7 linked regions of the Homo sapiens genome follow. The protein of the gene in region 5 purifies or fractionates together with the protein of the main gene of each other region. This does not show direct contact. Each region holds a gene or a part of one and is shown on either strand. Other genes may lie near its edges.

Evidence for each region.
Region 1: the proteins of FABP3 (region 5) and HMGCL fractionate together in Homo sapiens (co-fractionation; one large-scale study listed by BioGRID). This does not show direct contact.
Region 2: the proteins of FABP3 (region 5) and DSTN fractionate together in Homo sapiens (co-fractionation; one large-scale study listed by BioGRID). This does not show direct contact.
Region 3: the proteins of FABP3 (region 5) and PLXNA4 purify together in Homo sapiens (co-immunoprecipitation; one large-scale study listed by IntAct). This does not show direct contact.
Region 4: the proteins of FABP3 (region 5) and MSRB2 fractionate together in Homo sapiens (co-fractionation; one large-scale study listed by BioGRID). This does not show direct contact.
Region 6: the proteins of FABP3 (region 5) and CARS2 fractionate together in Homo sapiens (co-fractionation; one large-scale study listed by BioGRID). This does not show direct contact.
Region 7: the proteins of FABP3 (region 5) and TTC4 purify together in Homo sapiens (co-immunoprecipitation; one large-scale study listed by IntAct). This does not show direct contact.

The regions. Positions count from the first base shown.
Region 1 is NC_000001.11:23,822,630-23,826,640, forward strand, and holds the start of HMGCL (hydroxymethylglutaryl-CoA lyase, mitochondrial isoform 1 precursor), read right to left. Parts: upstream 2,801-4,011; 5' UTR 2,787-2,800; coding exon 2,727-2,786; intron 1-2,726. UniProt on the Homo sapiens protein: Mitochondrial 3-hydroxy-3-methylglutaryl-CoA lyase that catalyzes a cation-dependent cleavage of (S)-3-hydroxy-3-methylglutaryl-CoA into acetyl-CoA and acetoacetate, a key step in ketogenesis. Terminal step in leucine catabolism.
Region 2 is NC_000020.11:17,576,575-17,580,074, forward strand, and holds part of DSTN (destrin), read left to right. Parts: intron 1-3,500. UniProt on the Homo sapiens protein: Actin-depolymerizing protein. Severs actin filaments (F-actin) and binds to actin monomers (G-actin). Acts in a pH-independent manner.
Region 3 is NC_000007.14:132,177,971-132,181,470, reverse strand, and holds part of PLXNA4 (plexin-A4 isoform 1 precursor), read left to right. Parts: coding exon 1-90; intron 91-738; coding exon 739-885; intron 886-1,549; coding exon 1,550-1,784; intron 1,785-3,500. UniProt on the Homo sapiens protein: Coreceptor for SEMA3A. Necessary for signaling by class 3 semaphorins and subsequent remodeling of the cytoskeleton. Plays a role in axon guidance in the developing nervous system. Class 3 semaphorins bind to a complex composed of a neuropilin and a plexin.
Region 4 is NC_000010.11:23,098,579-23,102,078, forward strand, and holds part of MSRB2 (methionine-R-sulfoxide reductase B2, mitochondrial precursor), read left to right. Parts: intron 1-3,500. UniProt on the Homo sapiens protein: Methionine-sulfoxide reductase that specifically reduces methionine (R)-sulfoxide back to methionine.
Region 5 is NC_000001.11:31,367,415-31,370,076, reverse strand, and holds part of FABP3 (fatty acid-binding protein, heart), read left to right. Parts: intron 1-486; coding exon of another isoform or gene 487-519; coding exon 520-692; intron 693-2,582; coding exon 2,583-2,662. UniProt on the Homo sapiens protein: FABPs are thought to play a role in the intracellular transport of long-chain fatty acids and their acyl-CoA esters.
Region 6 is NC_000013.11:110,685,617-110,689,116, reverse strand, and holds part of CARS2 (probable cysteine--tRNA ligase, mitochondrial), read left to right. Parts: intron 1-1,098; coding exon 1,099-1,170; intron 1,171-1,290; coding exon 1,291-1,396; intron 1,397-3,500. UniProt on the Homo sapiens protein: Mitochondrial cysteine-specific aminoacyl-tRNA synthetase that catalyzes the ATP-dependent ligation of cysteine to tRNA(Cys). In addition to its role as an aminoacyl-tRNA synthetase, has also cysteine persulfide synthase activity.
Region 7 is NC_000001.11:54,725,861-54,729,360, reverse strand, and holds part of TTC4 (tetratricopeptide repeat protein 4), read right to left. Parts: intron 1,016-3,500; coding exon 929-1,015; intron 1-928.

The sequences.
Region 1 (4,011 bases), 7.5 Mb from region 5:
CTTTCTTAGAGACTAAGGCGATGAGCCATTGAATTTCATGACGTCAACAGGCTAAGTTGGAAGGTCCCTGCAACTTGAATCTCCCTCCAACAGGGATGTTCAGCCTCTGCTAGTATATCACCCTAAAACTATCTCACTGGAACATAAGTTTCATGAGACAGGGACTTTGTTTTATTCAATGCTGTATTTCTAAGGCCCTGGGACATAATAGGGGCTCGATAAATAACAGTTGAGTGTTGCTGAAATAATCTAAAACCTGCTTCAGGCCAAGCGTGGTGGCTCACGCCTGTAATCCCAGCACTTTGGGAGGCCGAGGTGGGCAGATCACCTGAGGTCAGAAGTTCGAGACCAGCCTAGCCAACATGGTGAAGCCCTATCTCTACTAAAAACACATAAATTAGCTAGGCATGGCAGCAGGTGCCTGCAATCCCAGCTACTCGGGAGGCTGAGGCAGGAGAATTGCTTGAACCCAGGAGGAGGAGGTTGCAGTGAGCTGAGATCGTGCCATTGTACTCCAGCCTGGGGTACAAGAGCGAGACTTCTTCATCTCAAAAAAAAAAAAAAAAAAAAAAGCTTCTAAAACCTGCTTCCAAGCTGCTTTTATTAGAACATTATAAACTCAATTCCACTTCCTTCCTTCCCCGTAACAGCTCTTCACATAATAATTCAGTTTTTAAACACTTAATATTTGCCAGGCACATACAAGAGCCATTTACATATTTATTTATTTATTTATTTATTTGAGATACAGTCTCATTCTGTCTCCAGGCTGGAGAGCAGTGGCGCGATCTTGGCTCACTGCAACCTTCACCTCCCAGGTTCAAGTGATTCTCCTGCCTCAGCCTCCCGAGTAGCTGGGACTACAGGTGCGCACCACCACACCTGGCTAATTTTTTGTATTTTAGTAGAGACAGGATTTCACCAGGTTGGCCAGGCTGGTCCCGAACTCCCGACCTCAAGTGATCCACCCACCTCAGCCTCCCAAAGTGCTAGGATTATAGGCATGAGCCACCACGCCTGGTGAGCCATTTACATATTAACCCATACTGTCCTCTCAACAATCTTATCAGGTAGGAACTATCATCATCCCCATTTTACTGTAAGAAATCTAAGGCCCCACTTGGGAGGCTGAGGCAGAAGAATCGCTTGAACCTGGGAGGCAGAGGTTGCAGTGAGCTGAGATTGAGCCACTGCACTCCAGTCTGGGTGACAGATGACAGAGCAAGACACCGTCTCAGGAAAAAAAAAAAGAAAGAAAAGAAAAGAAATCTGAGACCCAAAGAGATTAAGTAATCTTCCCGAGGTGACATGGGGAGTTACTCACTGAGGCAATATCTAAACCTGGCAGTGTGGCTCTAGAGCACAAGCTCCTAACCTCTGGGCCACTGTTGCCTCTTTACCACCGTTCGTTCGGTCCACAGTCTTCTCCTGGTTAAACATCCCGTTCCTCCTCTGTAAAGCTCTGCTCAGAGAGGGTCCCCCTAACCACACAAGTACTGTGCCACAGTGTCCTGAGGTATGGTGTACCTGCATCAACACCAACAGCGAATACTGACTAAACCCAGTGTTAAACTACAGGCCAGGGACTATTATTATCCCAACTCCGTAGGTGAAGAAACTAAGCCTCAGAAAGGTTACCCAAAAATCACAATTAGAAAGTGACAGAGCTTGGACTTGAACCCATATCTAGGCCTAATACTAATACTGGTTCCTATGCTTGGAACCCCATGGAGGGCCATCTCATTACACCAAATATTTCTTAAAAGCTTATTAATATCTACTATTGCGTTTAACTTTCCAAGTTGGAATTGCCATCTTCATTTTACACATGAGCAGGTGGTGCAGGTGAATGGCCAAGTAAAGATATTAACGTGGCTTTCTGAGAGGGACCCAGTGCCAGGAGTGTATTTTTCCCTCTATACAGTTATAACTCCTTCTCAACTCCCTAAGGTAAAAATACCACCACCGACTGATCACTTATTAGGAGCCAGAACACTGCCAGATGTGTTACTTACATTTTCTCTAATTTCCAAAACAACCCCAAGGGAATGTTGTCCGTTTTACAGACGAAAGAGCTGAGGTTTAGAGAAAGTAAATAACTATGTCATTAAGTCTAGAAAGTGGCAGAACTATTGGGACACCCTAGCTTCAGCTTTTATTTTTTCTGCTCCATACAGCTACGTCTCCCACACTTTTTCTGCGCTGAGAATGGGAGAGGGGAAAACATCAGGATCGAACAGGATCAAAGTGCAATTCCAAGGGAATCACAGCTTGGCTCCAATCAACGCAAGTCCCGCTCGGTAGGCTGGGATAGTTCCCCAAGCATCTCTAAAAGCAACAACAGTTGGAAATGGAGACGAAGGAAATGGAAGCGTGTTCTTGATTTTCACTAATGAAGAGTTGGAGAGGTCTGAAGTTCAATTAGAGGGAGAAAGGGGCCAGGGTCATCGGAAAGGGCCCTGGGCGGGGAATCAGGGCACCTAGGATGGCGTCCCAGGTCTCCATGACCCAGACAAGTCACTCCACCTCTCCGGACCTCAGTTTTCCCATCCCCTTCAAAGGATTTGAGGGGAAAAGGGAGGGTCCAGGACTCCAACGCCCTCCCGACTCTGGCCTGAGAGCTGTCCGGCCTCGCCTCTAAGAGAGCAGTCACCACGGGCCAAGCCCCCAACCCTGACAGTCAGAGTGCCTGCAGGGCCGCCGCCTCGGCGGCTCGGGGCACTTACAGCCCGGAGGGACGCCAAGCCCACCAGTCGCCGCGGAAGCGCCTTCCTCATTGCTGCCATCTTGGCCCAGAATCCCCCGCGGCAGTCCAGCTGGGCCCCGCGTGACCGATGGCTCGTCTGGTGGGCGCGGCCCCGCCCCCGCCCCTCCGCCGTGACTTCCGAAGCTGGCTCCACCCCCAGCCTCTCTCCGTTTTGATTCCGAGCGCCTCTTCCATGCCAGGCCAAGTGAGACGCTAGGAATATAAAGATGAACAGAATCAGCCTGGACACCATGTAATCCTAGCACTTTGGGAGACCGAGGCGGGTAGATCACCTGAGGTCAGGAATTCGAGACCAGCCTGGCTAACATGGCGAAACCCCCGTCTCTCCAAAAAATCCAAAAAAAAAAAAAAAAAAAAAAAAAAAAAAAAAAAGCCGGGCGTGGTGGTGGGCGCCTGTAATCCCAGCTACTTGGGAAGCTGAGGCAGGAGAATTGTTTGAACCCGGGAGGCGAGGTTGCAGCGAGCGGAGATCGTGCCACTGCACTCCAGCCTGGGCGACACAGTGAGAGCCTGTCCAAAACAAAAAACCCAAAACCAAACAAACAAAAACATGAAAAGAAATTAACCAAATTCTGTGGCTTCTTGTGTTTAGAGTGTGGGAGGTGTGAGGAGACACATATTAATAGTTACACAAACAGTTGTGTCATTTCTAACTTGCACTATAAGAAGCAACGATTTGCTACTCACTGTTCCGAGTTCTTAGCACGGATTAACTCACGCATCACGATCTTCAGGATTCAAACACAGGCAGGCAGCTCCAGAGAGGGGGCATCCTTAGATTTCATACCTTAAAAAAATGATTAAGATTTATCTAGGTGTACTTTCTGAAGGGCTGAAAAAAAAAAAAATCTATCCAGGTGAAGAGGATACAAGAAAAACTTTCCAGACGGTGTAGCATTCGCAATGGCCCTGAGGCAAAGAAAATGCTGAGAACACTGTTTTTCTCTCTTTTGTTTTGTTGGTTTGTTTTGTTTGTTTGAGATGGAGTCTCACTCTGTCACCCAGGTTGGAGTGCAGTGGCGCGATTTCGGCTCACTGCAACCTCCGCCTCCCGAGTTCAAGAGAGTCTCGTGCCTCAGTCTCCCGAGTAGCTGGGATTACAGGTGTGCACCACCACGCCTGGCTAATTTTAGTGTTTTTAGTAGAAACGAGGTTTCACCGTGTTGGCCAGGCTGGTCTCAAATTCCTGACCTCAGGTGATCCGCCCGCCTTGGCCTCCCAAAATGCTGGGATTACAGGCGAGA
Region 2 (3,500 bases), on a different chromosome or scaffold from region 5:
AAGTAATCTCTAATTGAAGGTGTGAAAAGACTGAGAACGTCTGTTGCAGCACGGCATAGATGAGTGCTTGAAAGATAGAAACTTAAGTTCATTCTACACCTGGAAGGTCATTTGTCATTGTGTTTGTGCTTTTGGATCACATCAAAGGAAGATTGTTTACTCCTTTGAACATTTTTACATTACTTCATAGGTTGTTATTTCTGTTTGCCTTCTCACAGGAAAGCAAGGATGAATTTCCTACCCTTGTTTCTATCTTGGCTTGCTTTCAGAAAATAGCTTGTAAATGTAATTAGTGTTTATTTTAAAATGGTTTCACAACTTTTCTGTTGCTATTTTCATGTACAGGTGGAGCATCCCTAATCTAAAAATCCAAAATTCTCTAAAATCCCAAACTTTTTGAACACCAACATATGGAAAATTCTACATCTCACCTCATGCGACAAGTCAAAATGCAGACAAAACTTTCACACATAGAATTATTTAAAATATCATATAAAATAATTTTCAGGCTATGGGTATAAAGTGTATATGAAACACAAATGAATTTTGTGTTTGGACTTGGGTCCTATTCCCAAGCTATCTCATTATGTATATGCAAATATTCCAAAATTTGAAAATATCTGAAATCAAATGCTTGGTACCGGAAGGTACTTAACCTGTAGTAATAGAACTAACACTAAAGCACAGCACAGGCAAATACAGGTAAGGCTTCTCCAACTTGCCCTGGAGCAATCTTTGAAGTCAGTTGTTGAAGCTCAGGAGTTTTGAGGAATTCTCAAATCATTGTAAGAATCTGCAGCCTGACCAACATGGAGAAACCCCATCTCTACTAAAAATACAAAATTAGCCAGGCATGGTGGCAGGTGCATGTAGTCCCAGCTACTTGAGAGGTTGAGGCGGGAGAATTGCTTGAACCTGGGAGGCGGAGGTTGTGGTGAACCGAGATCACGCCACTGCACTCCAGCCTGGGCAACAAAGCAAGACCCTGTCTCAAAAAAAAAAAATCTTTAGAGGAATACTCTAGTTATAAGAATATTTCATCTTTAGGCCAGTGTTGTCAAATGGAAAGAAAATACAAGCTATGTATATACTTTTAACTTTTCTAGTAATATTTTAATATACTTTTAACTTTTCTAGTAATATTTTTAAAAATTGAGAAATTTTACATATAAATTGTTTGAAATCCAGTATATATTTTACACTGAAAGCACGTGTCAATTCAGGTGCTAAATTTTCATTGGAAATACTTGATCTGTATTTAGATATGATAAAATTTACATTTGAAAAAGTAGATTCATATACTCAAGTTGCTCCAGACCTACTTACAAGTTTTCCAGTAATGGATAAGAATAAATTTTTAGAATTTAAGTTAATTAAAATTAAATGAAAATACAGTTCCTCAGTCACACTAGCCACATTTAAAGGACTCGTTAAGTCACATGTGGCTAGTGGCCACTTTATTGGACCAACCTAAGACTTTGTGAGTTGGCCTACTTAATTTGTAATGGGAAGTTGGTGTGTGTACCAACTAAATTCTCTGCATTTCTGCACATGTCCAAGAAACGATGCTGAGATAGCATATGAATTTCTTTATAGGACTTAAGATGTTTTATGAAACTAGACTATTGAGCTCTTTTAAGATGGGGATCGTACATTCCAGTAGCAAGATACCACTCTCATAGTAGGCCCACATAGATGTTACTGAATGAACATGAATGAGTGAATGGGAGAGGGTATTCTTAATTATGACAAAGGACAGGTTCCCATGGAGGTGGAGTCCTTTAATTTTTATACCTTCTATTCCCACATACCTTTTTTAATGTAATGGAAATTGGGTTTTAAGTATTGAATTAATTGAATAGTACCTCCCCTTTGTATACTGCATGATAATTTACTTTGAGTCTTACAAGTAAAAATCCTTCAAGATAGTTAAGGCAGTTATTAGAGTAATACCTTTAAAGTGATTGTGGCATATTGAAAGTCCTCAATAAATGCCAGTTTCCTTTCTTTCCTTAAAAATGAAACCGTGGAATTTCATGCTCATTGAGGCATCCTGAACCATAGAAAAGCGCTCAAAAGCCTAACAAATGAAAGAGCAAGAAGTGGCCGGGCGTGGTGGCTCACGCCTGTTATCCCAGCACTTCGGGAGGCCAAGGTGGGTGGGTCGCTTGAGGTCGGGAGTTCGAAACCAGCCTGACCAATGTGCTGAAACCCCCTCCTCTGCTAAAAATACAAAATTAGCCGGGTGTGGTGGCTCATGCCTGTAATCCCAGCTACTTGGGAGGCTGAGGCAGGAGAATCACTTGGACTTGGGAGGTGCAGGTGGCAGTGAGCCAAGATCCCACCATTGCACTCCAGCCTGGACAACAAGAGCGAAATTCCATCTCAAAAAAAAAAAAAAAAAAAAGCAAGAAGTAATGCTGTCTTACATTAACTTATAAGTATTTACCTTATCTCATTCAACCCTTATAGCAGTTCATTGAGATAGATATTATTTGTGTTAAACTGTACTGCCACATTAAAAGCATGTGCTCAGTGTCTGGCTGCTGGGTTTTTTTAAATCTTGACTCTGCCACTTGCACTAACTGTATGACCTTTGGTAAGTTCCTGACACATTCTGTGCCTCAATTTCACCATTCTTCCAAGTGGGAATAATAATAGTACCTACCACCACAACAGTATGAATGATGCATGTAACTAGTTTAAAGCAGTGGCACAGGCCAGGTGTGGAGGCTCATGCCTGTAATCCTAGCACATTGGGAGGCCAAAGCAGGCAGATCGCTTGAGCTTACGAGTTCGAGACCGGCCTGAGCAACATGACAAAACCCAGTCTCTACATAAAATACCAAAAAAAAAAGGAAAGCTAGGTGTGGCAGCGCATGCCTGTGGTCCCAGCTACTTGGGAGGCTGAGGTGAGAGGATTGCTTGAGCCCAGGAGCTTCAGGCTGCAGTGAACCAAGGTTGCACCACTGCACCTCAGCCTGGACGACAGAGCAAGACCCTGATCCCCCCAAAAAAAGCAGTGGCAGGTAGTAAAGTGCTTATCAGTTTATCAGTGTTAGCTAAAATAAATGGTGGCAAGCTTAGATCTAATTAGGTAAATAGTCTTTTGTTATTACTTGCTATCCAAGTGGAAGAAGCCAGAATCATTTATTTAACTCATTAAAAAGGGATTCCTGCCTGACTAATCAAAAGGCAGTTTATCCTTCAAGGGCCAGCTCTAGGAAGACCTGCCTGACATGACACCTCCCTTTTGTCATCATGTCTCATACAGAATCACTCATTTCCTGGGCTGTCAATGCATGGAGAGCTTGCTGCTGGTGCAGCATTAATCATATATAGGATTCTTTCTTATATCTGTTATCTCTACCCAACTGGATATATCTTTAGAATAGTTCAAAGTTTTGTTCATCTTTATATCCTGTATTCATCTTTATATTCTGATGACACCAGTGTGTGCCTCAGTAGTTGTAGAGCAAATGAAAAGAGTTGGAGGAGTG
Region 3 (3,500 bases), on a different chromosome or scaffold from region 5:
AACTTCACCTACTATCCCAACCCGGTGTTTGAGGCCTTTGGTCCCTCAGGAATCCTGGAGCTCAAGCCTGGCACGCCCATCATCCTAAAGGTGGAGTGAGGGTGGTGGGAGGCGGGGGTGGGAAAAGAAGGGGCTGCTGCATGGAAGGGGGTGTTCAAGTCACAGACTCCTGCCACATTTCTCAACCAGCATCTCTTGCAGAGGTTGCAGTGTAGCCCAGAGTGTGATAAATGTTCTCTCTGAGTCTGTACTGGGAAGAAAACTCTCTTTAGGGGCCGGTTCTACCCAGGGAAGGCAGATCCACCTTGGCTATTTGACTCTCAAGCTTTTATTGTCCTGAAAGTCCAAGTACTGGCAGGTCAGGCTCACTGCTTCCTCTGAGGCAGCCTTGTGCGAACCACAGCATAGGGCTTCCTTTGGAACATGGGTTACAGGTTAATTAAAGCTTATGACAATTTGAATCAATTGGTAGTGACTGACTCCAACTCTGCATTGAGAAGGATTCTGAGGCTGCATTTGGGATAAGCTGAAAGGAGTACTTTGATAACTGATTAGCCACTGGGAGGAAGAGGCAATGGTGGTAGTCATGCCATGAATATTTTTTGCACTTATTACCAAAGGTGGCTTCTTCACCAGCTCACCAGCGGGATGGGACCTCCAGGTGGGAGGACATGAGAGCCAGCTGGTAGCTGTGGTCCTCACTCTGGGGTGGGAACTGGTGCTTTCCCATTTGTACAGGGCAAGAACCTGATCCCGCCTGTGGCTGGGGGCAACGTGAAGCTGAACTACACTGTGCTGGTTGGGGAGAAGCCGTGCACCGTGACCGTGTCAGATGTCCAGCTGCTCTGCGAGTCCCCCAACCTCATCGGCAGGCACAAAGTGATGGTGAGGCTGGCAGAACCCCATCCTGGATGGAGCGGGCAGTAGGGATGCAGATGTGAGCTCAGGCCACCAAGGCTTTCCAAGAGGGGATTCTGTCCCACAAAGAACTTTTCCTGTAGCTACCCCACACCCCAAGTTCTTTCTTCATGTTCACTTTTGAGCTTCTCTCTTCTGTATTGTCATTCTTTCCACACTGGCTGGTGCAACAATAAGGAAAATGCAAAACAGCATTAAATAGTTGCTAAATCACCTGCAACAAACAAAGCCTTCAAGGAGAAGGCTGTTGCTGGCCCAGGGAATTCCGTAATATCTTAATATCATGTTCTGTGCTTCAGTTGTCCACCCTTAGATTGGGCATAAATCTTAGGGGAGCCAGTCATTTGTGGCAGACTGTGTTTAGGTCCCAGTTGTGTGCTGTTTTCTTATGAAGATGACAAAACTCGCTCCTGAATAAGAGGAGGTGAGGTTTTTCCAGTTGGGGGTGAGCTCTGTTAAGCTGTGCCTGTCCCCGCTCCCAGCCCCCCATGCCCTCTTGTCTATTTTGACACCAGTGATTGGTCTCCTTTCCGTCATCCTGCCCTGGTCACTAGTTCATGGGTAACTTGGGACTGTTGCCAAAGCTGCTGCGTCCCCACACCCAGCTCCCTCTTGCCCTGTGTGCCCCCAGGCCCGTGTCGGTGGCATGGAGTACTCCCCGGGGATGGTGTACATTGCCCCGGACAGCCCGCTCAGCCTGCCCGCCATCGTCAGCATCGCAGTGGCTGGCGGCCTCCTCATCATTTTCATCGTGGCCGTGCTCATTGCCTATAAACGCAAGTCCCGCGAAAGTGACCTCACGCTGAAGCGGCTGCAGATGCAGATGGACAACCTGGAGTCCCGTGTGGCCCTGGAGTGCAAGGAAGGTACTGAGTGGCCCCATGCTGGAGGCCATGTGTGTGTGCGTGTGTGCATATGTGTGTGCATGCACATCTGTGTATGTGTATGCATATGTTTCATATACAAACAAGCAGGCTGGGCAGCAGTGGGCAGTGCTGGAGGCTGGCGGTGTGTGTGTCTGTGCGAATGTGTGTGTGTGCATGTGTGTGTGTGCACATCTGTATGTATATATGTTTCATATACAAGCAAGCAGGCCGGGCAGCAGTGAGCAGTGCTGGAGGCTGTATATGTGTCTGTGTGCGTGCGCATCTGTGTATGTGTATATGTTTCATGTACAAGCAAGCAGGCCGGGCAGCAGTGGGCAGTGCTGGAGGCTCTGTGTGTGCGTGTGCATGTGTGTGTATGTATGTGTATGTGTTCCATTTACAAGCAAGCAGGCCAGGCAACTGTGAGCAGTGCTGGAGGCTGTGTGCGCGTGTGTGTGTGTATGTGTATGTGTTTCATTTACAAGCAAGCAGGCCAGGCAGCTGTGAGCAGTGCTGGAGGCTGTGTGTGTGTGTGTGTGAGCACGCACGTGTGTGAGCACGCACGTGTATGTGTATGTGTGTCATTTACAAGCAAGCAGGCCAGGCAGCTGTGAGCAGTGCTGGAGGCCGTGTGTGTGTGTGTGTGTGTGTGTGCGCGCGCGCCTGTATATGTGTATGTGTTTCATTTACAAGCAAGCAGGCCAGGCAGCTGTGGGCAGTGCTGGAGGCTGTGTGTGTGTGCACGTGTGTGTATGCGTATGTGTTTCATTTACAAGCAAGCAGGCCAGGCAGCTGTGGGCAGTGCTGGAGGCTGTGTGTGTGTGTGTGTGTGTGTGTGTGTATATATGTGTATGTGTATGTGTTTCATTTACAAGCAAGCAGCCCAGGCAGCTGTGGGCAGTGCTGGAGGCTGTGTGTGTGTGTGTGTGTGTGTGTGTATGTGTTTCATTTACAAGTGTGTGTGTGTGTGTGTATGTGTATGTGTATGTGTTTCATTTACAAGCAAGCAGGCCAGGCAGCTGTGGGCAATGCTGGAGGCTGTGCATCCTACCTGCATACCTGCAAAGCCTCTCACTCTATAGTCCCTATGCCTGTGTCCCAGACCACACCCATACCCAAGCAGGCCCCACCCTGGCAACACCAGAGAGGCCAAGGTCTCCTTGCCCTCTCCTTGAAGGTGTAGTGATTAGAATCTCTTTTATGTGTGGCAGGCACACAGCTTTGAATGTTGGAGGCGCTTGGTGACTTAAAGGAAAGCTGCAGACTGATAAAAAGCCAACTCCCTCCTTCTGCTCCCTGTGGGCCGAGCACCCCAACTGGGAGGGGGCAGCCGAGGGGAGCTCCCACCCAGGATTGTCACCTTCACCCCACTAGAGCACCTTCACCCCACTAGAGCAGCCTCCATACCTGGAATCCTGGTTGAGTGGGTTTTGCACTCTACTCGAGGGGAGGTCTGGGGGTGTCTTAACATGACGCATTTCAGCAATCTCCAGCTTTCTTCCTCTAGCAGGAAGGTAAGGCTGTAGGGCTGATCTGTGATTTAGAAGGAAGGGTGTTTCAAAGCTTGTATTAAAAAAATTACAAACACCACCATAAAGTGAAATCAGCTGCACTAAATCCAAGAAGGAAATTTAGGAGTCAGACTCTTGTAACCCCCAGGATATCATTTTGTGACTCATCCTGGGAGGATCTGAGCTGGTTCTTTGCTGTAGATTT
Region 4 (3,500 bases), on a different chromosome or scaffold from region 5:
AAGGATGAGCACGTGGTGCAGAGGACAGAAAATACCTGCACACACACAGAAAAGGACACAGCCAGTGTTGAAACCTCTCTCTAGCCACGGTAGCCAGAAGACTTGACTCATTCCCAAGTGAGAGACCTTGTCGTGTATCTAATTTACACGTGCCTAAATTGCTGTTTGATAAAACTGCTCAGAATTTACTCATACTGTAATTTTTATTTAAACTTTGGTTGTTTTCTAAAGCCCCAGTGTGTTCATTTGCTAGGGATCCCATAACAAAATATCACAGGCTGGGCAGCTTAAACGATGGAATTCATTTTCATACGGTTCTGGAGGCTGGAAGTCCAAGGCCAAGACTTGTCCTGAGATTTGTCCTGAGACCTCTTTCCTTAACTTGGGGATAGCTGCCTTCTTGCTGTGTCCCCAGGCGGCCTTTTCTCTGCTGTCCCTTCCTCTTATGAGGACACCAGTCTTATTGGACCAGGGCCCCCTCTTAATGGCCTCATTTTGACATGATTGCCTCTTTAAAGGCCCTGTCTCTAAATGCAGTCACATTTTAAAGTACTGGGGATTAGGACTTCAACATATGAATTTGGAAGTTGGCGGGCAGGGAGTGTCACAATTCAGCTCATAACATCCAGGTCAAAGAAACCTCTTAAAGTGATACAGCCCACATATAACCTGACCTGGGTGTACCCAACTGAGCGTTCATCATTTTGCTATCAAAGCAAAGTCTGTCTGCCCTTGACTGAGCCTTCTAGGCTGGCAAATTCTGCAGCTAAATGTTGCATAATTGGTGCTTGAACAAGAACTAGTCTAAACATTATTGCCTACCCACTAAAGTTTTCGCACACATTAAAAATAGTGTAAAAGGTCCACATTGATAAGGATTAAAAGAACCATTAAAAATGTCCTTTCCATATTGTACTTAGATGAAGGCTTAATTCTTTTGGTTAGCAATTTAAATACTAGTTATATATTTTAAACTTAAAAAGAAAATATTATGGCGTGGCACTGTGTCACGCACCTGTAGTCTCAGCTACTTGGGAGGCTGAGGAAGGAAAATCGCTTGAGTCCAGGCATTCAAGGCTGTAGTGTACTTTGATCATGCGTATGAATAGCCATTGTGCTCCATTCTGGGCAACACAGTGAGACTCGGTCTCTTAAAAAAATTAGGGCAGAGGGAGAAGGTGGTGTCTGAAGAACAGATAGTCACTCTCTAATACGTGTAACAAAATATAGAGGTGTGGGAGAGGGAGCTGGGAACCCAGACCAACTCAAGCCTTAGGTTCAAAGCGAAAGAAGTACATGTTTTAAAGCTCAATTCATGAGAGTCCCACTGACTTTTAGCTCTTCTCTAATTCCCACTTTCCAGTGTCAGCTACTATAGTGTACTGCCTGTTGAGTCACACTAAGGACAGTGCTTCCAGGAGACAATAGGGTTTTTTTCTAAGCCCATTCCACTTCCTGCCTGAAAGGAGACAGGAAGATAAAGCCAGCTTCACAGACTGTAAATTCCAACCTTTGTACCTGAAGTTGGTCCTCTTACCTATCTACAGGAATAATGCAAGATCTTTGCCAAAGCTAAGAGGAGGGTGTTTTATCATGATGCGTTTAGTCCTTTCCTTGACAAATGTCAATGATAGCCAGAGATTAGGTCTCACAAATTCCCCCACGGGACCAGAGTTTAGATCTGGGAGGAGGAACCCAGGACATACACTCTTTCTAGCAAAGCCTGTTCTTGCTCTTTTTAGTGCCTCTGGCTAAAGCATTCTCTTTTTAAATCATTTGAGGTGGCCAAGAAGAGACAGGATCCTGAACAGAAGTGGCAAAAAAACAGACAGGAAGAGGCTTGTATTAGTTTGTTTTCACAGTGCTATAAAGAAATACCAGAGACTGGGTAATTTAGGAAGGAAAGAGGTTTAATTGGCTTACGGTTCCACAGGCTGTACAGGAAGCATGGCTGGGGAGGCCTCGGGAAACTTACAATCATGATGTAAGGTGAAGAGGAAGCAAGCACATAAGCAAGCACATCTTACATGGTCAGAGCAGGAGGAAGAGAGAGAGGGGGAGGTGAACTTTTAAACAACCAGATCTCTCGATAACTCACTATCACGAGAACAGCACCAAAGGGGAAATATGTCCCCATGATTTAATCACCTCCCACCAGGCCCCACCTCCAACACTGAGGATTACAATGTCACATGAGATTTGGGTAGGGACACAGAGCCAAACCATATCAGAGGCAGTCACTCGTTCCACTGTGACAAGATGGAAAAAGGGTAGATGTAGGTATTAGTAAGTGTGATGGTTTGGTAGCCAGAAGGTTTGTGGCTTTTGATTTTGCAAAAGTGAAATCTGTTGAGAGGAAGGGGAGACGTAGTAGATAGATACCATGGTTTGAGGAGAGTGGAAAAGGTTTTTTGTTTTGTTTTGTTTTGTTTTGTTTAATTTCAATAGCTTTTGGGCGAACAGGTGTTTTGTTACATGAATAAGTTCTTTCTTTAATGGTGATTTATCAGATTTTGGTGTACTCATCACCCGAGCAGTGTACATGGTACCCAATGTGTAGTCTTTTATTCCTCATCCCCCTCACACCCTTTCTTCTCTGAGTCCCCAAAGTCTATTGTATCATTCTTATGCCTTTGCATCCTCATAGCTCAGCTCCCACTTATGAATGAGAACATACGATGTTTGGTTTTTCATTCCTGACTTACTTCACTTAGAATAATAGTCTCCAATTCCATCCAAGTTGCTGTGAATGCCATTATTTTGTTCCTTTTTATGGCTGAGTAGTATTCCATAGTCTATATATATACCATCATTTCTTTATCCACTAGTTGATTGATGGGCATTTGTGTTGGCTCCATATTTTTGCAATTGCAAATTGTGCTACTATAAACGTGTGTGCAGGTATCTTTTTCATGTAATGACTTCTTTGCCTCTGGGTAGATACCCAGTAGTGGGATTGCTGGATTAAATGGTATTCTACTTTTAGTTCTTTAAAGAATCTCCACACTGTTTTCCATAGTGGTTGTACTAGTTTACATTCCTGAGAGTGGAAAAGGTTTAAAACACTCATTGCAGAGAAATGGGAAGAGAGCTGACTGGGGAAAGATGGTTCCATGGTTCACTGAAACCCCAGTGAGATGAGTAACTTTGAGTTTATAAGGACAACCCTCTCCCCAGGTGGGGGATTTTCTCCAGTAGTGCTTGATGGTACACGGGTAGCCATGGAGAAGATAGTTTTTTAAATAAGCTTTTTTATTTTGGAATAATTTTAGATTTATAGACAAGTTATAAAGACAGTACAGAGTTCTCAAGACCCCTCATCCGGATCCCCCTGGTAATCTTCTGACATCATCATAGTACATTTGTCAAAACTGTCTCTGTCTTTCATGACCTTTACAGTTTTGGGGAGGACTGGTCAGGTTCCTTGTAGAATGTCCCTCAGTCTGGGATTGTTTGATGTTTCTCCTCACAATTAAACTGGGATTATGGGCTATTAGGAA
Region 5 (2,662 bases):
GCTGGAGTGCAGTGGCACAATCTCGACTCACTGCAACCTCCACCTCCTAGGTTCAAGCAATTCTCAGCCTCAGCCTCCTGAGTAGCTGGGATTACAGGCACATACCACCACATCTGGCTAATTTTTTGTATTTTTAGTAGAGACGGGTTTCACCATATTGGCCAGGCTGGTCTTAAACTCCTGGCCTCATGTGATCCGCCTGCCTTGGCCTCCCAAAGTGTGATTACAGGCGTGAGCCACCACACTTGGCCCAATAGTAGCTTATTCTAATCCCAGCTCTGCCACTGACTTGCTATGGCACTGCTGTTCCTTAAGTATCTCTCATCTAATGGGATCAGTTATCTGTGTTCACCAAACAGAACTAAGCGCAAGACTGAATTTTAAAATTCCCATGCAAAGGCTTTGAAAGATACAGTCCTCCACTTCCCCATACCCAGGCCTGAGAGTTATTCATTGAGTTTCTTGTACACTGCTTCTCTACCCCAGCTCATATACTCATAACCTTCCCCCTACCCTCAGGTGTGGGTTTTGCTACCAGGCAGGTGGCCAGCATGACCAAGCCTACCACAATCATCGAAAAGAATGGGGACATTCTCACCCTAAAAACACACAGCACCTTCAAGAACACAGAGATCAGCTTTAAGTTGGGGGTGGAGTTCGATGAGACAACAGCAGATGACAGGAAGGTCAAGGTAAGTCAGGGAAACAGGGGTGGGGAATGGAGAGTGCTGAGACTCTAAAAGAGAATAGGCTGGTAGTCTTGGCTCCCTGGTATTGCACCCTGAGGGGCAGACTATCATGGGGAATTTAAATGAAACAAGATTCATAAAGCCTGTGTAGTGCTGGAATGCCACTGATGCTAAATACATGTCAGTTCTGTCCTCTTGTTTTCTTCCCTCCCTTCTTGGGATTCATCTATTGTCTGCCTCGGAATGGGCAGCACAGAGCCAGGATGTTCTTCTGACCTCAGTATCTACTCCAGCTCCAGCTGGGTGACCCTGTGCAAGGTATGCAGTAGCTCTAGGTTTCTTTCCCCTTCCATAGATGGCAGAGTTATGTGGCCATGGCTGTGACCTGAAGTGCTTTAGGAATGATGCCCAGAAGTCAGGGCCCTCCACTGAGTGAGGTCATTGTGACCTCCAGCAGCAAAAAAGGCAGCCAGGAACTAGAAGCACCTACTCAGATGCCGCTTCAACTTCTAACTCCCAGACATGGCCAATGACCCTGACAAACTATTTCCAGTGTTGCCAGCTGACAGGCAGGAAGAGCTATGTTCCGTGATAGGGCATTCACCTTGTCATGAATGTGTTTGCAGTGTCTTCCCACCAAGCCTTAGCCCCTCCTCCCAGGGTTCTATCACCCTGCAGTGGCTGTCTTGGCAGCTTGCCTCAGCCTTCCAGGCCAGGCATGGGAGCGAGAGAACTTAAGGGCTTTGACCTCTATAGGGTGTCCCTATAGCAGTGTTCTATCATGACACTATCATTCAGCCCCATCAGCTGTTTCCTCTTCCTCATAGCTGTCCCCAGAAAGAACAGGATCACACAGGTGGCTGGCAGCAGAGCTGGGGATGGTGCCCAAAGATGGCAGTCTACCTTGGATAAAGGTGGCTGCCCCACCACCTGCTCATACCTCCTTGGACTTGCCTACTTTCTCAAGGGGCAAGAACCCCAATTAAACACAATAGCCCTGTGGAATGCCTAGGGCAAAAATATCTACTCTGAGTAGGCAAAAAAAACTAGGGGAATGAGAACAAGGAGTAAGGTAAGGATAAAAAAGAGCACACTAAGAGACAGGCCTCATACCCCTTATCACCTAAACAATACACAGAACCTTCTCAGATTCTCCTACTGAACCACCTTGCTCATCAGGATCCCTTAGCCTGGCCTTGTGGCCCCCAAACTCCTAGGAAAGAGAGCTGGAAGAGCTGCCAAATGAGAACCAGCTGATGTATGTATGCTGGCAGCACCCAGAGCTGAGGAACCACTTCAAGGGCATCCAGTCACAGGACTTTGTGGTTGCTGCCCTCTTGTTGGCTAAAGAGGTCACATGATGTGGACCAAGAAAAGGTGTAGGAATACAGGGCAGGAAGTCTAATTATCCAATACTTCCTATCACTAAGGGTCTTTTAGACATTATGTGGACTAACCACAAGGCTGGATAAAGATTCTCAGGACTACTCCTCCTCCTCAGTCAGTCTTTCCCAGGGATAGACTAGTAAATCCCACCTGTATCTGAGGGGACCAGGCTACGGGAATCACCTAGAGTACAGATAAGTGTCTGTCTTGAAGGCTTGTGGTACTTCTCAGAGCCAGGCTCTCTGGCTCCACCATACTGCCTGCCTCTCCCTCCTTGCCTAATATCTGAAGGCCTCTTCCCCAGAAAGGCAGTAGTGGAGCAGAGGCTGGAGGTGAACTAGATGTCTTGCAGGGATAGCTGGGAGGCGGATTGCCTGAGCTCTTGTCCTCACACCATCACTAGTTTGGGTCAAAGGCTGTGTGCTCTGTGGCCCAGTGTCCAGACCCCACCCTGCCCCTCAATTCCTGACTAAGATCACAGCTCAGGCCTCTACCCTCTTTCCACAGTCCATTGTGACACTGGATGGAGGGAAACTTGTTCACCTGCAGAAATGGGACGGGCAAGAGACCACACTTGTGCGGGAGCT
Region 6 (3,500 bases), on a different chromosome or scaffold from region 5:
GGATAATGTGGCAGGGGCTGCAGATGCGTGCCCCCAAGGCCCCCACATTTGGAATTGATTGGACTGTTTTGATGGTCTATCTCCAGAAACCCAGCCATGGGACCCGAGGGAATGAGTACTCCATTAAATCCCAGTTGTAGTGTGTTAAATTACTTTCAAAATATTTCTTTAGAAGTTCCTTTTTGATCTTTCTTTTTTGTTTGTTTTGGAAGAGAGTCTTGCTCTGTCGCCCAGGCTGGAGTGCAGTGGCACCTTCTTGGCTGACTGCAACCTCCGCCTCCTGAGTTCAAGTGATTCTCCTGCCTCAGCCACCTGAGTCTCTGGGATTACAGGTGTGCACCACCATGCCTGGCTAACTTTTGTATTTTAAGTAGAGACGGGGTTTCACCGTGTTGGCCAGGCTGGTCTCAAACTCCCGGCCTCATGTCATCCACCTGCCTTAGTCTCCCAAAGTGCTGGGATTTATAGCTATGACCCACAACACCCAGCCTCCTCTTTAGTATATTTTTGACTATTTTTTTTTTCTCCTGAGGATTAAGGGATAAGATAGGAACCTAGTTTCTTATCATACAGACTGGACTAGGGTGATTTTGCCCTTGTCTTAGAAAAGTGGAGGATCCTTGGTATGTTTTGTTTTCTATTTTACTTTATTTTTATTTTTGTTTCGGAGATGGTGTCTCGTCCTGTTGCCAAGGATGGGATTGCAGTGGCACGATCATGGCTGTTCGCAGCTTCAACCTCATGGTCTCAAACGATCCACTCATCTTGGCCTCCCAAAGTGTTGGGATTACAGGCGTGAGCCGCTGCACCCAGCTGGTTTGTTTTTTACTATATAATGGAAATTGTGACATTATTTCTTCTCTAACCAGAAGACAAGGTCAATAAGCCTTTTTTTCTAGCTAAGCTACTAGTAAAAGTTCAGTACCTAAAATGAGTGCCCCCGCTTTGGTGAGTGGGTGGGGGCAAACTGAGGCCGAGGCACCGGAGGTGGCCGGGGTATGTTTGCTGTCGTGTTGTGCACGTGGGCTTTCTTGTGGCTGGGTGGTTCTGTTGCGAATGCCCCAGACTCATTAACGTGCACATCTAATCCTTCTGCAGATGAATATTTCCCCCGCTTCCCTCGCCAGTCTTTATGAGGAAGACTTCAAGCAGGACATGGCAGCCCTGAAGGTAAAGTGTGGGGCTGGTTGTTCCTGCCATGAGGGTGACAGGCGTGAGCAATGACAGCTGGTGCTGGCTGACCTGTGCTTCTCACGAGGGAAACACGGTCACGTCTCCACTTCCTTGCAGGTTCTCCCACCCACGGTGTACCTGAGGGTAACCGAAAATATTCCTCAGATAATTTCTTTCATTGAAGGAATCATTGCTCGTGGGAACGCTTATTCAACGGCAAAAGGTAGGGTTTATGTTCTTTTTTTTTTTTTCTTTTTTTTTTTTTGAGACAGAGTTTTACTCTGTCACCCAGGCTGGAGTGCAGTGGTGCTATCTCAGCTCACTGCAACCTCTGCCTCCCTGGTTCAAGCGATTCTCCCGTCTCAGCCTCCTGAATAGCTGGGACTACAAGGTGCGTGCCACCATGCCCGGCTACATTTTTTTTGTTTTGGTATTTTTAGTAGAGATAAGGTTTCACCATGTTGGCCAAGCTGGTCTCAAACTCCTGACCTTGTGATCCACCTGCCTCAGCCTCCCAAAGTGCTGGGATTACAGGCGTGAGCCACTGTGCCCAGCCGGTTTATGTTCTTAAAACTAAAACATTACTGGGATTTGGAGAAACTGGATGTATTTATCAGCTGTAGGAACATACTAAAATTTACTTCTGTCTTGCTAGGATTCCAACAGCAAAGCTGTTGTGGGGTTTTCTACAATATTGTGTCTCTTTGCGAAATGGTTGAATTAGTTCTAAATATCTTTTCCAGGGAGAGGGGAACGTCTGGACAGCTAGTCTTGGTAACAGTCGTGGAATCTAGGTGGTAGGTGTACAGGTGTTCATTGTGGTGTTATTTCATCTTTGTTTAGGTATTTTCCTAACAAAAAGTTGGGGACAAACACAGTACCTCCAGAGACCTGCTCTCTTCTTATTAAAAGTCAGCCCAGGTCACCCCCGTCTGTTTGGCTATCGTTTTTTCACAGGCCATTACGAGTGAGTTGCGGGAGTCAGAGGTTGCAGTGAGCCGAGATCACACCATTGCACTCCAGCCTGGTGACAGAGCAAGACTCCGTCCACCCACCCTCCCCTGCACAAAAAACAAAAAGTTGCAGGGCCAGGCATGGTGGCTGATGCCTGTAATCCCAGTACTTTGGGAGGTGGAAGCGGGTGGATCACTTGAGGCCAAGAATTTGAGACCAGCCTGGGTAACATGTTAAAACCTTCTTTCTACTAAGATGACAAAAAATCAGCCAGGCCTGGTATCGCGCGCCTGTGGTCCCAGCTATTCTGGAGGCTGAGGCATGAGAATTGCTTGCACCCAGGAGGCATAGTTTGCAGTGAGCCGAGATCACACCATTGTACTCCAGCCTGGGTGACATTGCCAGACTGTCTCAAAAAATAAAAATAAAAAAGTGAGTTGCAGGGCTGGGCGTGGTGGCTGATACCTATAATCCCAGCACTTTGGGAGGCAGAGGCAGGTGGATCACTTGAGTCCAGGAGTTCAGGACCAGCCTGGGCAACATGGAGAGACCCCTTCTCTACAAAAATAAAATATAAAAATTAGCTAGGCATGGTGGCGTGCTCCTGTAGTCTCAGCTACTCAGGAGGCCGAGGTGAGAGGATAGATTGAGCCCAGGAAATTCGAGGCTGCAGTGAACCATGATTGTCCCACTGCACACCAGCCTGGGAGACAGAGCGAGACCTTGTCTCAAAAAAAAAAAAAAAAAGCGTGAGTTGCAGATGTTCTGTCGCATCAGCCATGACACTTCAACATGCATCTCTGCATAAAAGGAGTCCAGATGTCATGGTCAGACCTCAGACAATGAAGAATTTCTGGCTAGCTTCGCGTGTCCTCTCTGTATTAAATATACTCACTTGTCCCCAGGGCATGTGCTGCGTGTGCATTTGTTGGTTTAGTCTCCTCACTTTTTCCCCTCCTCTTTCTTTTTTTCTTTTTTTCTCTTTTTTTTTTTTTTTCATTTTTTCTGGGTAAGCACATGTAGATTCAAGACTCTGACAGGTCAGTTTTCCTGTGGAGCAGTCTGTGTTTAGATTTGCATGTTGCTTACTGCAGGTGGTTTCATTGGTTTGCGGATGCTAATCTTTGTCTGGTGGACCCCAGGCAAGGCTGGCGTCTTGCTGTTTTGCTGCTTTGGTGATGAAGCATCGCCATAAATCCGAACTAAATCCCACCCATCCTGGCTGCAAACCCTGACCACAGCCTCATCTCTCCATGAAGTTCTCCTTCACCCAGCACAGTTGAAAGTGAACTTACTTTCTCAGCCTTGATATCTCTGCTGTACCATTTGGCAGCCAGTTCTGCACTGCCATAGTTTGCTGTTTAATGTATTCA
Region 7 (3,500 bases), about 23 Mb from region 5:
GCAGGTATTCAGTACAGTAGTGTCCCCTTATCCACGGTTTTGCTTTCCACAGATTCAGTTACCAGTGGTCAACCATGGTCTGAAAATATTAAATGAAAAATTCCAGAAATAAACAACCTGTAAGTTTTAAATTATGCACTGAGTAGCAGATGATGAAATCACGGGCTCTGCTCTTTGGCCAGCACATCCACGCTGTAGATGATACCCACCTGTGAGTTAGCACCCATCTCAATGATCAGATTGACTGTCATGGTATCACAGTCCCTGTATTAAGTAACACTCATTTTACTTAATAAGGACCCCAAAGCACAAGAGTACTGATGCTGGCAATTCGGATATGCCAAATAGAAGCTATAAACTACCTCCTTTAAGTAAAAAGGTGAAATTTCTCAACTTAATTAGAAGAAAAATTGTATGCTGAGGTTGCTAAGATCTATGGTAAGAGCAACCTTCTATCTGTGAAATTACAAAGAAGGAAAAAGAAATTCATGCTAGTTTTGCTGTTGCTGATGTACCTCAAACTGCAAAAATTATGGCCACAGTGTGTGATAAGTGCTTTAGCTAAGATAGAAAAGGCATTATATTTGTGGGTGGAAGACACAAACAGAAATGTGTTCTGACTGATGGCAATCAGGTTTGGAACTATTTGAGATTTCAAGCATCCACTGTGGATCCTGGAATACATCTGCTTCAGGTAAGTGGAGACAACTGTATATGTTACTGAGACCAACACATGCACATGAGAGAGCTGACTGAACTGGGGTGGCCTGACTCCAGAGCCTGGTCTCCTCTGTCACACTGCTTTACCAAAGTAGAAAGAAAATGAACAAATTCCTTCAGGTAAAGCATCCCAAGAAAGGTTCCCAACAAGCTTCACAGGATTAGTGGATTTAGCAGGACCATAAAAACCTAAGGTTTAAGAACTCACCTTGATGGCCTGGAGTAAAGCCTCATTCTGATTCCTCTCCTTCTTTTCTTTCAAGTTGGCTTTCCTCACATCCCTCTGTTCAATTCGCTAAAAATGAAATTTAGATGCATCAGCTCTAGAGACCTGGCTTCCTCTTCTATTGCACTAGCCTGCTCCTAAATTATTATCTCTGGCCTCTATCCAACCCAAGCTCCTGTGTTAAGGAATACCAGTGGCCAGATTCAGTTCAATAAACATTTACAAAGTACATGCCTAGATGTCAGACCCAGTGGCAGCAGCAGTTTAAATTTACTTCCTGTATGTACCCAAGGAACTCACAGTCTACTGAGGGGTTGAGGGGTACAGACAAGTAAAGAGCCAGTATAACAGGTGGATTATGTACTACTCTGGTCGTGTGATCCGAGTGCTACGAAACATAGCCTGGGTGACAGAAACCCTGTCTCTATAGATTTTTTTTAAAAAGTATAACCACCCTAGTGGGTATGCAATGGTATCTTACTATGGTTTTGATTTGCATTTCCTAATTATTAATGATGTTGAACATCTTTTCATGTGCTTTTTGGCCATTTGTGTGTCTTTGGAGAAGTGTCTATTCACATCCTTTCCTCATTTAAAAAACTGAGTTACCTGTCTTATTGAGATGATAAGAGTTGTTTATATGTTGTAGATAAAAGTCCCTTATGACTTACCAATATTGTCTTCCATTCTGTGGGCTTTTTCACTTTTTTTTTTTTTTTTTTTTTTGTAGAGATGAGGTCTCACTTTGTTGCCCAGGTTGGTCTCGAATTCCTGGCCTCAAGTGGTCCTCCTGCCCTGGCCTCCCAAAATGCTAGGATTACAGGTGTGAGCCACTGCATCTGGCCCCTTTTCACTTTTTTCTTCACATTTATCTTTTCATTTTTTTGATGGTATCCTTTGAAGCAAAAAGTTTTTACTTTTGATGAAGTGCAATCAATCTACTTTTCCTTTTGTTGCTTGTGCTTTGTGTCATATCCAAGTTCATGAAGATTCATATCTATGTTTTCTTTTAAGAGTTGTATAGTCTTAGCTCTTACATTTGGGTATTTGATCTACTTTGGGTAACTTTTTTATATAGTATGAGGTAAAGTTCTAGCTTCATTCTCCCACATGTGAATATCCAGTTGTCCCACTATCCTTTGTTGAAAAGATTACCTCCCTATTGAATGGTCTTGGCACACTTGTTGAAAATAAATTCCCCATAAATGTGAGGGCTTATTTCTGAGCTCTAAATTTTATTACATTGACCTATATGTCTATTGTTATGCCAGTACCACAATGCCTTGATTACTGTAGCTCTGTCGTATGTTTTGAAATTGGGAAGTGTGAGTCTTCCAATTTTGTTTTTTTTTTTTTTTTGTCTTTCATGATTGTTGGTCATTCAGAGTCCCTTGAATTTCTATGTGAATATTATGATCAGCCTGTCCATTTCTGCAGAGAAGCCAATTGGACTTTTGATACAGATTGCACTGAAATTAGCCAGATGTGGCATCACATGCCTATAGTCCCAGTTGCTTGGGAGACTGAGGCAGGAGGGCTGCTTGAGCCCAGGAGTTTGAGGTTGCAGCGAGCCATGATCATACCACTGCACTCCAGCCTGAATATTAGAGCAAGTTCATGTCTCAAAAAAGAAAATTACACTGAATTGATACACTAATTTTGGGAGTATTGCCATCTAACAATATTAAGATCTAATCTATGAACATGGGATGTCTTCCTATTTACTTAGGTCTTCTTTAATTTCTTTCAACAATGTTTTTTGTATTTTTAGAGTATAAGTTTTAGCTACTTTTGTTAAATGTACTCATAAGTGTTTTTTGATGCTATTTAAAATGGAATTGTTTTCTTAAGTTCATTTTCAGAGTGTTCATTAAAAATCTATAGAATACAAATGATTTTTGTGTACTGGTGATGTTGTTTCCAACAAGCTTGCTGAACTTAGTTCCAAGAGTTTTTTAGTGGATCCCTTAGGATTTTCTATATACACGGTCAAGTTGTCTGCATATAGATGGTTTTACTACTACTTCTCTTCCACTCTTTCATTTTTGAAGAATAGATTTGCTAGATATAGAATTCTTACAGTCTTTTTCTTTTAGCTCTTTGAATATGTCATTTACCTGCCTTTTGGCCTTCATGGCTTCTGATGAGAAAGCTGTTAATTTTCCTTAGGATTTTTTGTACATAAAGAGTCATTTTTCTCTTGCTGCTTTTAAGGTTCTCTTCTTTGTTTTTCAACAGTTTAATTATAATGTGTTTAGGTAGAGATCACTTTAAGTTTATCCCACTTATAGTTTGTTAAACTTTTTGGATGTATACATCAGTGTTTTTCACCAAATTTGGGAAGTTTATGGCCAATATTTCCCCAAGTATTCTTTTGCCCATTCTCTCTCTTCTCTCCTTCTAGGACCCCCACTATGCCTTTGTTGGTATGCTTGATGGCATCATACAAGTCTCTCTTCATCCTTATTCTTTTCTCATTCTGTTCTTCAGACTGGATAATCTCAACTGATACATCTTAAGTGTGATGATTCTCATTACTGCCTGCTCAAATGCG